Homo sapiens: one gene and its partners. The protein of the gene in region 5 purifies or fractionates together with the protein of the main gene of each other region. This does not show direct contact. Each region holds a gene or a part of one and is shown on either strand. Other genes may lie near its edges. The genes, in order: TBCD, AARSD1, LZTFL1, ME1 and RPUSD2.

Region 1 (3,522 bases), on a different chromosome or scaffold from region 5:
TTTTTCTCAGAAGCCACTTGTTCCTTCCATCCTCAGTGCATCCCAGGCCAGCAGGAGCTTTGTGAGCTGCAGGCATGGCGATGGTGCGCCTGTTCCACACCCAGCAGGCGCAACCAGAGTCTCGTGTGTGCCGACCACAGGAGCCAAGCCTTTTCCACTGTGTGGACTCATGTGGCCAAGGCTAGGCCTGGTCACCCAGGACCCTCACCACGTGACCCCAGCCAATCGGGACAGTTCAAGGAGGAGGAGACCCCTATTACACAGGTTGGAATAAAATATTTAAATCTCGTAAAAATGTAACCCAAGGCTCTTTTAGGGTATAAAGACCATTGGCCACCAGGTCAAACACAACAACAGTAGTGTGTTAACCCCACACTCCTGTGTGGCCAGGTCGTCACACACATCCCGTGAAGAGCTGTCTGCTAAACACACAGCACGGACTGTCACAGTCCTGGTCTTGTGGTCCTGGTGACCTCACAAGCCTCACAGATGCGGTGGCACCTCCCAGTTCTCGGCCTGCCCATGTTCCTGTGTCCAGGCCCCATCCCCACCTGAGAGCAGGCCAGGGAGCCACCCTAATCTACACCACGCACATGGCACCCCTGGGCTCCTCACATAGGGAAAGGGTTGCTCACCCAAGCCCTTGGGCCTCTGAGTGGCCACACCTGGGGCTGCTTTGGTGCTGCTGGCCGTGGTTCTGCACCTCAAGCCCTATGAGCACAGCACAGGTCCCAGAGATGGGTGTGGGTTGCTACCACAGTGAAATTTTTATACACGTTCCCCTCACCAGCTTTGGGATGGATCAGCACGAGCTCAGACACAGAGACAAAGGTAGCCTCCTGCCCTTTGCCTAAAAACCCAAGTGTGGACTCTGCCCAGGCTCTCCTAAGACAGTGTAATTATTTCAAGAATGGTATTTATTTCCGACATTACTGTAGAGGCACACATTGGACTCTGACGATTCCCCTTGCAGCAGACATTTGTGAAGCTGCTGGTCGGCACACCCATCAATCAGTGACTCCTGCACTGCAGAGGGGCCACATGCACGATGCTCACGTGTGCACAGGGGGGAGGACAGCACCCCCACCAGGCAGACGGGCCCAGAAACAGCATCTGCCCAGCACTCCAGACCATGCCTGCCACCAGGGCTTCTCAGTTCTCTAGCATTTGAACCTCTGATTTAACATTCATCTCTCTCCAAGACTGGGTGGGGCACTGCCTGTGGCCAGACGTCTCCCACAGCAGGGACAGCACCAGGCAAGAAGGGGGCCTGGTCTCCAGGCAGGAGGAGTGCAGCCCACCTCCCCTCTGGCTGACCCCTGGGCAGTGAGCCTTTCCATCACCCCTACACACATCAGGCTCAGAGACAAAAGGCAGGAACTTCTTGGTACATGATTTTATAGGAAGCACATTTGTGTTCAAGTGAAGGCAGAGGCGTCCACCCCAAGTCACCAGAGCGCAGGTGCAGAGAGGAAAAGCTGTCAGCTAGTGCCAGCCTCCAAGGGCCAGCGCTACCCTTCAACAGCTGGAGGCACCACTGTGCGAGGCTTTCCACACCGGCCTCCCTCAGGAACAAGACATCCTCACCAGGCAGGGGTGAGGTATGGGCTCCAGGACTGGCTTCAGCAGGCACCAGGCTGAAGAAGAGACAAGACAAGCTCAGGCTGGTCAGCTCCAACACACACCATTCCCAGCCAGGGGACCCTCACCCCTCTGGGCCCTGTGTGGGGACTGACACGGTTCCTGCAGGAAACCATTTGTGCCGTTTCCCACACACCCGGCAGCCTGAGCTATGTGGCTGACAGGTGCTCATGACTAACGTGTCCTCGGAAGGGCACCCCATCTGGGGAGCGGGAAGGGAGGTTCACTGCACTGCTCTTAACCTGCATTCACACGTTTGAAATTTTTCCTAATAAAAATGTAAAAAGCACATTTAATTCCAAAGTCTGCTGTTGAGTTCAGCCTTTACACACACAGAAATGGGGGAGGCTGTGTCCTGATGCTCAGCCCATCCCCACTGCCCCCATGTATCTAGACATGGTTCTCCTCCTCCCTCTCAGATATAACCTCCTGCCGGAAGGAGGCTGAGAGGAAGGAGCCAACCCTGGTAACTAGAGAGACAGCACAGCAACCCTGGGCCCCAGCCCCCGAGAGAACTGAGGTACTTGTTTTTGTTACTTTAGAAGAGTGACGGGCTGGTGAGGTGCACAGGGGCAGCTTCTGGGGGCCTCTCACCCAGCCCCGGCCCCACTCATGGGAAGCAGATGAGGAGGGGTAGGGTGGCACTCTTGGCACTTGGAGCACAAACAGACCCCAGGGCCAGGCATGAGGAGCCTGGATCAAGCTGGTGCCAGCTCCACCCACTCCCCGGCCCCCCAAACGCCCCAGAGCAAGTGGCCTGGATGCCACAGGGGCCCACAGGTGTGGGCAGTGGCCAGAGAAGGCAGCTCTGCTGGTCCCGTAATCCCAGGGGTCCTGACATGAGACGAGGGAACGGGCCGTGTGGACGTGCTGGCAGAAGCTAAGCACAGCCGCTGGCCCCAGAACATTCCAGAGCTCAGGGAAGCACAGGCACCTCATGCTGTGAAGGTGACAGGGTTACCTGGGGCACCAGCTGGGGCCTGGGTACGCCCAGAAGGTCACACAGACGGTTGCGCTGCTCTCTCACCACTGCAAGCTCCGCGTCCCTGTGAGGAGAGGGAGAGCCGTGAGTCTCTCGAGTGCCCACCGGAGAACCTCAGGTGTGCGGAGGTCCCGCGTCAAGCTTCCATGGCCGCAGTCAGGGAAAGGAGACCTCACCCCCGACATCCATAGCCAGGCTGAGGGCAGAAAAGACGTCACAGGAGCACGTTCTCCAGCAGAGCCTCGAGCCTGAGCCCTTTCCGGAATCGCAGGAGGACGGTTCCTTCCCAACAAGGGGTGCCCCTCGGGAAGGACCACGCCCAGCGCAGGGACTGCGGGAGGACAGACCAAGCGAGGCCAAGGAGGGGCTGACAAGGGTTTTCCAGGTTTTAATTTAGCTGTTGATGCGAAATAAAAATTCTAGCAATGCTGTGGAGATATCTGGGGCATGTTTTTCGTTTCTAATTTAAAATATTCTCTTTAAATTCTAAGGATTTTTTTTTTTAACAGAAAGGGGATTAAACGATAGGAGAAGCCCCCAGGCCCACCCTGCTAGTTCCTCCCTCCCTGATGTGAGGAAAGGAGGCCACCCCGACCCAGCCTCGCTGGAGGAGGCCTCGCCCCGCTCGGGACACCTGGCTTCTTCAGTCCTAAAGCCAATTATTTTAGAATCTGGTCCAGAATGCACCTTGGTGTTTTTTTTTAAAAAAATCATTGTAAAAACGGGTCTCCAGAGCAGTAGTTAAGATGGCCATTCTCTCAACGCATGTTGAGAAGACAGCCCAGCTGCTCCCGGTTCCTCTCCTGGGACCACGTGTTTGTTTAGGAGCAGACACACACTCCTCCCCAAACCAGAAAACCTCGCGGAAGCCCTGGAGAGGCCACCTCTGTCCTCCGAGG
Region 2 (2,237 bases), on a different chromosome or scaffold from region 5:
ACAGACAAGGGGCAGAGGCGGCCAGGCAGAGGGAAACCTGGTGGTTTAGGCAGTGGCAGGGAAAGGATGTGTGGTGGGGAAAAGTTTGCAAGAGTGAAACCATGAAAGGCATTTTCTGCTTAGCCAGGATCAGCAGTCTTCTGCTGCCTTCTTAATGTTTCACCTAAGTTCCCATAGTTGCTCTCAAAAAGTTTCTTGGCCCTCGTGGGCCAGTGTGGAGGGGCTGTATCATCATTCATCAGGAGCGTCACTTGGTGGTTTAGGGGGAAATAATCTATTCTTAAGATTGAAGAGAGTGCAGGATTTGGGGGGTTGACTCTACATCCTTCAGTATCAGAGCTTATCTCCTTGTCTTACCTCCTAGGAGACCCTCCTGTTCTTAACTGTGGGCGATGAGAAAGGTGGTGGACTCTTCTTACTGGCAGGGCCACCTGCGTCTGTGGAGACCCTGGGGCCCAGGTAATTCTTTGTGGACTCTCTTGCACATGTAGTAGAGCCTGTATCCTACAAATACATTCCTTTACTGAGTCAAAGGACCATCACATCTGCGATCTCATTTAATTCACATCATGGGCATGTGAGGTGGGCTGAGCAGAGATAATTATTACTACTGTCATTTCCAGTTTGACAGTTGAAGGTCTTTTGGCTCCACATCTCACATGTATGTTTTTGTTTTTGTTTTTATGAAATGTGTTTGTTTTTGTTTTTTGAGATGGAGTCTTAGTCTGTTGCCCAGCCTGGAGAGCCCAGGCTACTCAGCTCACTGCAGCCACCACCTCCCAGGTTTAAGCAATTTTCCTGCCTCAGCCACTCAAGTAGCTGGGATTACAGGTGCACATAACCATACCCGTCCAATTTTTTGTATTTTTAGTACAGATAGGGTTTCACCATGTTGGCCAGGCTGGTCTCGAACTCCTGACCTCAAGTGATCCACCTGCCTTGCCCTCCCAAAGTGCTGGGATTACAGGTGCTCACCCTGCTCTCTGGAGATTAACATAATTTATCTAGCCCAATTCATAGACACTGATGTTGTTTCCAGTTATTCACTCTTATGTGATGATGGTACATATATCTTTGTGCATATGTGCAAGTGTTTTTTTGAGACAAAGTTTCACTCTTGTTGCCCAGGCTGGAGTGCAATGGCACCATCTCGGCTCACTGCAACCTCTGCCTCCCGGGTTCAAGCAATTCTCCTGTCTCAGCTTCCTGAGTAGCTGGGATTATGGCGCATACCACCATGCCCGGCTGATTTTTTTATTTTTAGTAGAGACGGGGTTTCATCCTATTGGTCAGGCTGGTCTTGAAGTCCTGACCTCAGGTGATCCACCCACTTTGGCCTCCCAAAGTGCTGGGATTACAGGTGTGAGCCACCATGCCCAGCCTATGTGCAAGTGTTTTCAAGAAAGATTCCTAGAAGTCATCTACTCTTCTTATCCCTCTCCCAGTCCCTGGAAAAAGACTCAGAGCTGCCCTTGTTTTTTTTTGTGACTTTTCCCTCAAAGTCTCCCTGACTATACCTCTGTTCCCCAGGGTGGCTGAGGTCCTGGAAGGCAAAGGAGCAGGGAAGAAAGGCCGTTTTCAGGGCAAGGCCACCAAGATGAGCCGGCGGATGGAGGCGCAGGCGCTTCTCCAGGACTACATCAGCACGCAGAGTGCTAAGGAGTGAGGGCTTAGGGCACTCACCTCCTGTTTCCACAGGAATCTTTTGGTCAATAAAATAGATTGACTCAGAATGGTTGCGCTACCACTTGTATTTATATGACTAATTCGTACTGTATACTCCATTGTGCTTGTGTGGTTACTTTCCGTTTATAAATAGATAATTTTCTAATTTAGTTCATGCACTGTAATGTTTAGAAGGTGGTGGATTAATTTATACCAAACCTTGTGCTTTTGCACTCAGTTGGATAAGAAATGAACATCTGATCAGCTGAGTCCACTGCTCCCATAATTTTGTTATAATCCACAAAGGCACATGGCTTTTTCCCGCCCCTACCGCCCCACCCCCTGAGATGGACTCTTGCTTTGTTGCCCAGGCTGGATATAGTGGTGTGATCTCAGCTCACTGCAACCTCTGCCTCCCGGGTTGAAGGGATTTTCCTGCCTCAGCCTCCAGAGTAGCCAGGATTACAGGTGTGTGCCACCATGCCTGGCTGATTTTTTTGTTTTTGTTTTTTGTTTTTGTTTGAGATGGAGTCTCGCTCTGTCACCAGGCTGGAGTGCGGTGGTGCGATCTT
Region 3 (3,522 bases), on a different chromosome or scaffold from region 5:
TTTATAAAATCCTATGAAAAATAAATGCATGCATGTAATTTCATGTTGATATTCTAAAAATAACTGTTTTAGAATGGTGATTCAACATCATAGGAGATGAAAAAAATGATGTATGTTTTGTGTGCATGCCAGCCTCCCTTGCCAGCCTAGGTAAGTGCCAGCCCCTTCAGAGTCACCAGCAGGCCAGTCCATTGTCAGCCCTGGGTACGTGGTGTCTTGCACACAGCCGACACTCAGTAGCCACTGAATTCCAAATACATAAAATATGATTTGTGAACTGCTGGTATTTCCATCCAAGATGTGTGTACCAGGGTTGAGATGGCAAACAGGTTTCATTTTGAAAAGCCAAATTTAAAAAAATCCTCAAAGAAGTTTGAATTCTTCAAAATGATAGAAAAAATGATAAAAGTAATATAATTTATACCAAAAACTTAATAGACATATGTTTTAGTCATTATTTACAAGGAAATAATATGAGAGCACAATTACTGATTACATGGTTTTCTAAATTTTTAAGATTTTAAGTTTTTTATATTCATGAGATATGTGTAATTTTTGCATACTTTGACAACTATAGCATAAGACAGGCACTGGATCTTCTCTCTTCCTGGATCTTGTTTTTGACTGGATAAGATTCATGACAGAAAAAACATTTGTACTGATAAGACAGTAAAATGGTCTACAATTGGTTAATATGTAGATGAAGAAATACTTAGTACTTTCAAGTGGCTCTCACGCCTGTAATTCCAATACTTTAGGAGGCCAAGGGAGGAGGACTACTTGAGCCCAGGAAATTGAGACCAGCCTGGGCAACAGAGCAAGACCCCGTCTCTACAAAAAATATAAAAAATTAGCCAGGCATGGTGGCACATGCCTGTGGTCCCAACCACTTGGGAGGCTGAGGTGGGAGGATCGCTTGAGCCGGTGAGGTCAAGGTTGTAGTGAGCCATGGTTGCACCACCGCACTCCAGCATGGGAAACAGAATAAGGCCCTGTCTCAAAAGAAAAAAAAAAAAAAAAAAAAAAAGTACTTTCAACAGAAGAAAAAAAAAATCTTTCCTCATTTTTGAAATCTGGTCTTTGAAAAAAAGATTTTCATTGCAACTAATAAAAGCACGTATTCACTGGTTGTTCTTGTGTCCAAAATCTTAAAGTAAAATTGGAGCAAAGCCCCAAAAAGCTTTTAAACAAATTCATCAGCCACATGTGTTTGCAATTGTTTGACTTAGGAGAAATTATAAAGCGGTTCTGGAACATTCGTGTTTTTATAAATCTATTGTCATTGGCATATAATGGTTGAAAATCATTAGCTATATAAGAAGTATCCTCCTATTTTAAAAATATCTACAGATAAAATGGTTCAACGTCTGAGATTTGCTTCAAAAAAACATGGCTGGTGGGAAGAAGAAAGTAGAGGTACAAATGAAACCAGACTGGCCATGCATTGGTAACTGCTAAATAGAGTGAAGAGTGCATGGGGGTTCATTATACTATTCTCTCTACTTTTGTGTATGTTTGAAATTTTTCATAGAGAAAAGATTAGCAAAAGCCCAGTGAAGCAGATTTTGGGTTTGTTTACCAGACATTTGCAATGAGAGTATGACCACTAGAAAAGCCAATGCTGTACTGAATATCTACCCAAATGGTCCTGCTCACAGGAAATCATACTGCAGCATGCACACTCAACAGAAAGTCCACAGGAGACAGACTGTACATACAATGACTTCCCGCAGGCGGAGTGACATTCAGTCATTACATTCAGACAAGCATGAAGAACTACAACACTGGATTTCATTGTACTCTATGGTGCCGGCGGGTACAGACGCATCTGCAGATTCATAATCATTTTGTCACACTCATCAAAGGCAAACTTAAGTAATGTTCAGTATAATAAAACCCAAATATAAACCAATTAAAAACTTTTCTTTTCATTTTCTTTCCCCTCCACTGTAATTGGATGTCAAAGTGAGAGGGGAAACTTAAAAAAAAAAAGTGAGAATATCTTGCATACCAGGAAGATTGTAGAAAAACTTAAAAAATAAATGTGAGAATATCTTGCATGCCAGGGAAACTGCAGGTGTGTGAGCTATGTACTGTCCCCTCTGCCCTAGAGGATGGACAGAGGGAAGGTCACTGGTTCTCACCAGGCCTTTTGGGGGCAAGAATGTCCCAACACATGACAATAGAGGCATTTGTCTCAGGGAGTAGCAGGGGTGGGGTACAGTGAGCAGTAACTAAGACTTAATTTTAAGTTTATAACTTCATTCTACTTAGAAAATGTGAGAAAGGTAGCTAAAACTTGTTTCACCTTTTGATTTCCTTGATCAAGCTGTAAATCTTGCAGTGCTTTTTCTAGTTTTGACTTTTCATCCAGTGCATTTGTAGCCTATAGTGAAGTTTAAACAAAACACTTTCAGTATTTAATCTGTAGGCAGTTCAATAATTGTGTCAAAACATTTCTCAGTTACCTGTATTTCAATGGTCTTCAACCTTGACTTCAATTTCTCATTCTCTTCTTGAAGTCTTAAAATTTCCTTTGTGAGTAAATTCAAATTTTATTATATTAACCAAAATATTTTAATATTTGAAATTATTACTTGTTTCACTTAAAAATCTAATTTTTAAATTTAAATTACATAATAGCTCAAAAATGTACTACTGATATTTTGGTAATATCCCAATTTCATCCAGCCTATCAGCCTCAGTATCTGTGAGTCAGCTTTGGATCTAAGACATCTAGTTTCTTTTCTTTCAGTTTCTCAGACACATCTTCCCTCTTTCAGTCCTCTGTTTTCTGTTTTCAAATTTTTTTCCAAAGACCCGCTTCCCTGCCAACTTTCTCCTAGCTGGTCCTGCAAATCCTGGGTCTATTCTCAGCCTACACTGCACACTGTTGCCCCTTATCCTGAGAACTCCTTCACTTCAGTACCATGCTCAAGCCCACAGATGCTTCTGACTGAGGTGAGGCCAAACACTTTTGTTCTTATACAGCTCAAACATTTGAATCATCTGTGTTATTTTTCAGTAGACTCAAATAAACACATCAGCCCAGTCAGAGGGCACTGCACTCTGTTTCAAGTCATGCCGCCTCCTGTCTGACCACTGCCTGTTCTGTTCTCCTGCCCAACACACTCACTTCTCTTTCCTCTACAATTTAACTGGTCTTCATCCTTCAAGGCCCAGCTTAGGTACCCCTTTACCCAAGAGCCTGTTCTCACCTACTGTTATCCACACACAACTGAGTCTTCTCTGCTACCCAGTATGACACCTGTAGCACACAGGAGAATATTCTCTGGTCTCTATTTCTAGAACATCAGTTCTACTTTCCCAATAAAACTATTACATTTTTGGCCGGGCACGGTGGCTCACACCTGTAATCCCAGCACTTTGGAAGGCCGAGGCGGGCGTATCACAAGATCAGGAGATCAAGACCAACCTGGCTAACATGGTGAAACCCCATCTCTACTAAAAATACAAAAAATTAGCCGGGCGTGGTGGCAGGCGCTACTCGGAGGCTGAGGC
Region 4 (3,522 bases), on a different chromosome or scaffold from region 5:
ATCAAAAGACAGAGATTGTCAAAAATTGGCAATGGCTACAAGCAAACCTGACTGATTAGATCATTACTGCTTCTCACCTACATGTTCCTGTCAAAGTCCAGAAAATGTCTACTAAACAAAGCAAGGGAAAGTGCTGTATTATGAAATTTTGCTTCAATTACAGAAGTATATCATTAGTTTGCTAGGGCTGCCACAACAAAGCGTCACACACTGGGTGGCTTAAACATAAATTTATTTTATCAAAGTTCTGAAGGATAGAAGTCCAAAATCAAGGTGTCTGGAGGGCTGATTTTATTCTATGGCTTCTCTCCTGGACTTACTAGATGGCCATCTTAAGACTCTGAATAGACAATTTAAATGTATTTAAATATATTCTAAGCTTAAAGGGCCAATGCCTAATAGTACAATGGAAGTCTTAGAACTCCTTCAGCCTCTGGATCTCTAAGGTTTTATTCTTTTGTTTTGTTTTGCTTTGTTTTGTTTTTCTGAGACAAGGTCTCAATCTGTCATACAGGCTGGAGTGCAGTGGGTGTGATCATGGCTCACTGTGGCCTCCCACCTCAGCCACTCAAGTAGCTGAGACTACAGGTGCACACCACCATGCCCAGCTTTTTGTATTTTTTTTTCTTTTTTGTAAAGATGGGATTTTGCTATGTTTCCCAGTCTGGTCTTGAACTCCTGGGCTCAAGTGATCCTCCTACCTCGGCCTCCCAGGTGGCTCACATCTGGCATTACAGGTGTGAGCCATCACAACTAGCCTGATAACATAATTACTAACATTGGTATGAATACTGTATTAGTCTGTTCTCATGCTACTAATAAAGACATATCCAAGACTGGGAAATTTATAAAGAAAGATGCTTAATTGACTCACAGTTCAGCATGGCTGGGTAGGCCTCAGGAAACATACAATCATGGCGGGAGGGGAAACAAACACATCCTTCTTCACATGGCGGCAGGAAAAAGAATGAGCAAAAGGGGGGAAAGCCCCTTATAAAACCATCAGATCTCGTGAGAACTCACTCACTACCAGGAGAACAGCAGCATGGGGGTAACCACCCCCATCATTCAATTACCTCCCACTGGGTCCCTCCCACAACACATGGGGATTATGGGAACTACAATTCAAGATGAGATTTGGGTAGGAACACAGACAAACCATATCAAACACACAAGTATTTTTGCCGATGTTCTTACTCAACCATTACCTGATTATTGAAAAAATAATACCAGTGTTTTTAAATCCAGGGTCTGTATATTAGTAGAAAAGCTCTAGCAGTTATATTCTCATGTTTTTAGAGAACATTATTCATTATTATATTACCTGACTTCCTACTATGGTTTCAATCTGTCCCCAAAAGTCCATGTGTTGTTAATCCCCAATGCAACTGTGTTAAGAGGTGGGATTTTTATGAGGTGACTAGTATTGTTAATGCAGGAGTGGGTTCGTTATTGCAAGCAAGAGTGGGTTCCTTTATAAAAGCAAGTTCAGCCCTCTCTTGCTCCTTCTCACCCTCTACCATCTTGCCTTCCGCCATGGGATGATGTAGCAAGGAGGACCTTCCCAGATGCTATATCACACAGCTAATTGGGAGGCTTGGGACTTGGGCTCATTTCTTCTAGGCACAAAGTTTTAGAATGTCCATTCCTTTACATCACATTCTCCCCTACCTGTCCAAAAGTTAGAGGGAAATCAGAGCTGAAAAAGGCAAAATCTCAAATCCATTCCTTTCTTCAATATTTTTTATACTCCATATCACCTGTCTCAAGAGTTACCATATCAAACTCACCTTTCTTATTACAGCACACATTTTGTTATTGTGATATTCTATACTACTACTGTTGTTTCCACTGCAGCAAGGTAACAAACATATACAGAGGTACCTGGCTGTATATGACTTTCACATAAGTGGGATTCTATGTTAAATAATAAATCAGTTTCTCACGTTGCAGAGGCAACTCTAGAGAATGTGGTTGGATGAAATTTTCTGAATAATTCATTCAGGTCTAGTTTACATTGAAGAAAAAGAGGTTTAGGGTACTTTTCCTTCATTGCCATGAATCTTATTTCTCTCTCTTTCTTACAACACACCCAACTAGGTCTTGTCATGCCAGGAAACAAACAGCTACAAAAGCTGATTTTTTAGATGTAAAAGTTAGTAATGATGACCCAAATTAACTTCGATAAAACACTATCTTCTACTGGAACGTAACTCTTAAACATGACTTATACTGAACCAAACTGCCTAAAATATGGAAGAGTGGTGTTGTTTGGAGATTTACTTATGGGTCATGTTATTATTTACTCTTAAGATATAGAAACCATGTAAGCACAATTATGATAGAACTATCAATTAGTGTTTTCTACCATTGCAAAGGGAAATAAACTAATTGAGAATAAAAAATAGGCATGATTATTTTATTATGTGTAGAATTTTAATTTTGAAGGGCAATTTATGAAATATTATTAGTCACATGAAAATTATTGAGAAAAAAATTTAAAACACAACTCATCTATATTAGACCATATCCCTGAAAATAAAAAACATTAAACATTAAATTAGACACATTTATATAAAACCGGCAAAGATAAGCATCTCAAAAATAGTTAGGGCTATGCACAGAAAAATATTAAATCTCATAAACATGAGGCAGATTTACTTCCCCAATTGTTTTGATGAAATCCTACCTTGAATGATGCATATTTTAATACAAACAAATAGTAAGGCTTAGACTCATACATGAATCATAACAAATGAAGATCCTAATTCTCTTAAGTTTTTTGAAAATTTTTGAATTCATACCATATCTACTGTTAACTTTGATTTTACCAAGATGAAGCACCTCCCTTAGGTTATCCAGCAAGTAATTAAAATTTCATGAGATTATCAAGCTTAAACCACATTTCAACTTTTCTGACTACATTTCAGCATACTATATAATGGCATAGGAAGTGAACTAAACTTTAGACTTCAATGTGAATTTATTTTCACAAAATTACTTTAAAGAGGACAATGCCTAAACTATCACTTTAAAAGCTGAGTTCTGTTTAAAGACAAAAATAAAGACATGGCTCATTCATTAAGTAAACATTTATTTAATGTCTACTGAGCAAAATACTGTACTAAATATTGTGACTCCTGCCCTATGACAATCAAAGAAATAAGAAAAAAAAATACAACTTATGGCCGGGTGCAGTAGCTCACGCCTGTAATCCCAACACTTTTGGGAGGCCGAGGCGGGCAGATCACTTAAGGTCAGGAGTTTGAGACCAGCGTGGCCAACATGACCAAACCCTGTCTCTATTAAAATATAGAAATTAGCTGGGCATAGTGGCACATGCCTGTAATCTCAGCTACTCAGGAGGCTGAGGCACAAGAGTCACTTGAACCCAGGAGGTAGAGTTTGCAGTGAACCTAGATCACACCACTGCACTCCAGCCTGGGCAACAGAACAAGGCTCTGTCTCAAAAAAAAAAAAAGGAAAATAAAAAGACAAGTTAGTAAATACAAAATTATATAG
Region 5 (3,173 bases):
TTTAAGTTGGGCTGTTAGTCTTTTTGCTAAGACTCTCACATCCAGAATATATAAAGAACACTTACACTCCACAACAAAAAGACTAACAACCCAGAATGAGATGCCACTTCACTCCTACTAGGATGACTATAATCAAAACAAAACAAATGTTGGTGAAGATGTAGAGAAATTGAAACCCTATGCTTGCTGGTGGCAATATAAAATGGTTCAGCTGCTGTGGAAAAGTTTGGTGGATTCTCAAACATTTAAACATAGAATTACCATATGACCCAGCAATTCCACTGTGAGGTATATACCCAAAAGAACTGAAAACATATTTAATGTTCACAGCAGCACTATCCACAATAATGAAATGGTGGAAACAACCCAAATGTCCATTAACTGATGAACAGATAGACAAATCGTGGTATATCCATACAACAGCTTATTCTGCCATAAAAAAAGAATGAAGTACCGATACATGCTACAAGTTGAATAAACCTTGAAAACATTATGCCAAGGGAAACAGAGACATAGGTCACATGTTTTATCATTCCATTTATATAAAATGTCCAGAATAAACAGGCAAATCCAAACAGACAGAAAGTAGATTAGTGGTTGCCAGAGGCTGGTGGAAGGGGAGTGGAAAGTGACCACTTACTTAATGGGTACAGGTTTCCTTTTGGGGTGATGAAAATGTTTTGGAAATATATGAGGTTATGGTTGTACAACACTGTGAATGTACTAAATGTGACTACGCTGTACATCTTAAATTGGTTAATTTTTTTTTTTTTTAAGAGACAGGGTCTCACTCTGTCACCTAGGCTCTGGAGTGCAGCAGCACAATCACAGTTCACTTTAACCTTGAACTCTTGGCCTCCAGTGATCCTTTCACTTCTACCTCCCAAAGTACTAGGATTATAGCCATGAGCCACTGTGCCTGGCTAGTTAAAGTGGTTAATTTTATGTTATGTGAATTTTACATCAGTAATAAAAAAGAAGCCGGAAGAAAACCAGACATCAAAGATGTTAGAAAAAGGGATATATTTACAAACCAAAAAGTCTCCAAATTCCCACTGGAAGGAGGTAGCAAGTATGAGCAGGTCTCTTTAGAAGCCCGTCCTCATTCCTATAGAAACCCCAAGTACTAGCCCATGGGGTCAGCCCTTGCCCTATAGCCCATCCTTGTCACAACCCAAGAAGCAATCCCTCCATTGGCCACACCCTCAGTCCTTTTGCCAGTCATCCTGTGCCCAGGCAGGCATTGGTGAAAAGTACTCAAAGCCTGGCCCTTTATAGCGTAGGGCATGTAGGAACATCACAAGGTCTTGGGGCAAGGGATCCTGTCGCACCAGCCGGCACTCTGCACAGAGTGGGTCTGTCTCTTGATTCATGACATCTGTTTCAACTGCCTTCTCTGATGCCAAGGCTATTGTGTCCAACTCCTGAGGGGCTGCCTCAGCTACTTCCTCCATCTTCTGGGCAGCTGCAGCCAACTCTTCCAGGTCGTCCTTGCCCAACTCTGAGGAGGGGGCCGTAGAGTCTGTGAGTCCTGGGGACAGGTCACCCTCACAGAGATCTAGCACATCCAGGCTCTGTTTGGCCTGGTGCTCTGCTACCAGGTCCCGTAGCAACTCCTCGTTTGTCTTGGGAATGTAGCCGCCCCGGCCTCGAGAAGGACCCCAGGCAACTGAGTTGTAGATGGGGTCGTTGAGAATGGGATGGCCCAAGAACTGAAGGTGGACTCGAATCTGGTGTGTGCGGCCTGTGAGTGGCCGGCACCGTACCACACTGGACTGGCCATTGTAGCTTAGCCTCTGGAACACTGTCTCACAGGGCTTGCCCCGGGGATCTACACGGCACACCCCTACTTTGTAAGACACCACTAAGATGGGTTCTTTACAGGTCACTTCCTCAGTGGGGAACTCCCCTTCCACCCGGCACACGTACTCCTTCTCCAGCTACATAGGAGGGAAGAGGGAGAAAGTCAGTACAAAGCCTAAATTCATGGAGTCCAAACTCTTTGTGGAGTGATAAGGACCAGTGTCAGAAAATTCAAACTCCAGCTCTACCATTCGCCAGTTTTGCGATCTTGGGTACATTACTTAACCTCTAAATCCTACTAACTCATCTAGAAAATGTGAAATTAGAAAAGCATTTACCAGCTGGGTGAGGTGGCTCACGCCTGTAATCCCAGCACTTTGGGAAGCTGAGGTGGGTGGATCACCTGAGGTCGAAAGTTCGAGACCAGCCTGACCAACATGAAGAAACCCCGTCTCTACTAAAAAATACAAAATTAGCCAGGCGTGGTGGCGCATGCCAGTCATCCCAGCTACCTGGGAGGCTGAGGCAGGATAATTGCTTGAACCCAGGAGGCGGAGGTTGCAGTGAGCCAGGATCACACCATTGCACTCCAGACTGGGCAACAAGAGCGAAACTCCATCTCAAAAAAAAAAAAAAAAAAAAAGAAAAGAAAAGAAAAGCATTTACCTCATTGGGCTGTGATAAGCATTCAGTAAGTTAGGCTCTAATGTGCTTGATACTAAGCCTGGTATATAGCATGCACTCAATAAATGTATTATGATTCAGATCCAGAATTACAAGTCTCAGGACAACAATCATTACCATTAAACTCCTCTACCCAAGACTTTTCCAACTACATCTAGAATCTTTTCACCAAGCAGGCTCTCCCCATAATCTTAAAAGCCTTGCTCAGCCTGTCAGCACTTTATTTTCTTATGTTAATTTATTTCTTTGAGACGGAGTCTTGTTCTATAGCTCAGGCTGGAACGCAGTGACATGCTCATGGCTCACTGCAGCCTCAACCTCCCATGGCCAAGTGATCCTCCTATCTCAGCCTCCCAAGTAGCTGGGACTACAGGCATGTGCCACCATGCCAGGGTAAGTTTTTTTTTTTTTTTTTGAGACAGAGTCTCACTCTGTCACCCAGGCTGGAGTGCGGTGGCGCGATTCGGCTCACTGCAAGCTCCACCTCTTGGGTTCACACCATTCTCCTGCCTCAGCCTCCCGAGTAGCTGGGACTATAGGTGCCCGCCACCACGCCCAGCTAATTTTTTGTATTTTTTTTTAGTAGAGACGGGGTTTCACCGTGTTAGCCAGGATGACCTCGATCTCCTGACCTCGTGATCTGCCCGCCTCGGCCTCCCAAAGTGTTGGGATTACAGGCGTGAGCC

The links.
Region 1: the proteins of RPUSD2 (region 5) and TBCD fractionate together in Homo sapiens (co-fractionation; one large-scale study listed by BioGRID). This does not show direct contact.
Region 2: the proteins of RPUSD2 (region 5) and AARSD1 fractionate together in Homo sapiens (co-fractionation; one large-scale study listed by BioGRID). This does not show direct contact.
Region 3: the proteins of RPUSD2 (region 5) and LZTFL1 fractionate together in Homo sapiens (co-fractionation; one large-scale study listed by BioGRID). This does not show direct contact.
Region 4: the proteins of RPUSD2 (region 5) and ME1 fractionate together in Homo sapiens (co-fractionation; one large-scale study listed by BioGRID). This does not show direct contact.

The regions. Positions count from the first base shown.
Region 1 is NC_000017.11:82,940,564-82,944,085, reverse strand, and holds part of TBCD (tubulin-specific chaperone D), read right to left. Parts: intron 2,688-3,522; coding exon 2,603-2,687; intron 2,597-2,602; exon of another isoform or gene 2,581-2,596; coding exon of another isoform or gene 2,032-2,580; exon of another isoform or gene 2,009-2,031; intron 1,938-2,008; exon of another isoform or gene 1,638-1,937; coding exon 1,623-1,637; 3' UTR 1-1,622. Other genes in the region: uncharacterized protein LOC124904095, read right to left, coding at 2,032-2,580.
Region 2 is NC_000017.11:42,950,022-42,952,258, reverse strand, and holds the end of AARSD1 (alanyl-tRNA editing protein Aarsd1), read left to right. Parts: intron 1-364; coding exon 365-459; intron 460-1,530; coding exon 1,531-1,666; 3' UTR 1,667-1,733; downstream 1,734-2,237. Other genes in the region: PTGES3L-AARSD1 protein, read left to right, coding at 365-459, 1,531-1,666. UniProt on the Homo sapiens protein: Functions in trans to edit the amino acid moiety from incorrectly charged tRNA(Ala).
Region 3 is NC_000003.12:45,828,605-45,832,126, forward strand, and holds part of LZTFL1 (leucine zipper transcription factor-like protein 1), read right to left. Parts: intron 2,535-3,522; coding exon 2,469-2,534; intron 2,387-2,468; coding exon 2,309-2,386; intron 12-2,308; coding exon 1-11. UniProt on the Homo sapiens protein: Regulates ciliary localization of the BBSome complex. Together with the BBSome complex, controls SMO ciliary trafficking and contributes to the sonic hedgehog (SHH) pathway regulation. May play a role in neurite outgrowth. May have tumor suppressor function.
Region 4 is NC_000006.12:83,424,544-83,428,065, forward strand, and holds part of ME1 (NADP-dependent malic enzyme), read right to left. Parts: intron 1-3,522. UniProt on the Homo sapiens protein: Catalyzes the oxidative decarboxylation of (S)-malate in the presence of NADP(+) and divalent metal ions, and decarboxylation of oxaloacetate.
Region 5 is NC_000015.10:40,572,294-40,575,466, reverse strand, and holds the end of RPUSD2 (pseudouridylate synthase RPUSD2), read right to left. Parts: intron 1,941-3,173; coding exon 1,206-1,940; 3' UTR 518-1,205; downstream 1-517. UniProt on the Homo sapiens protein: Pseudouridine synthase that catalyzes pseudouridylation of mRNAs.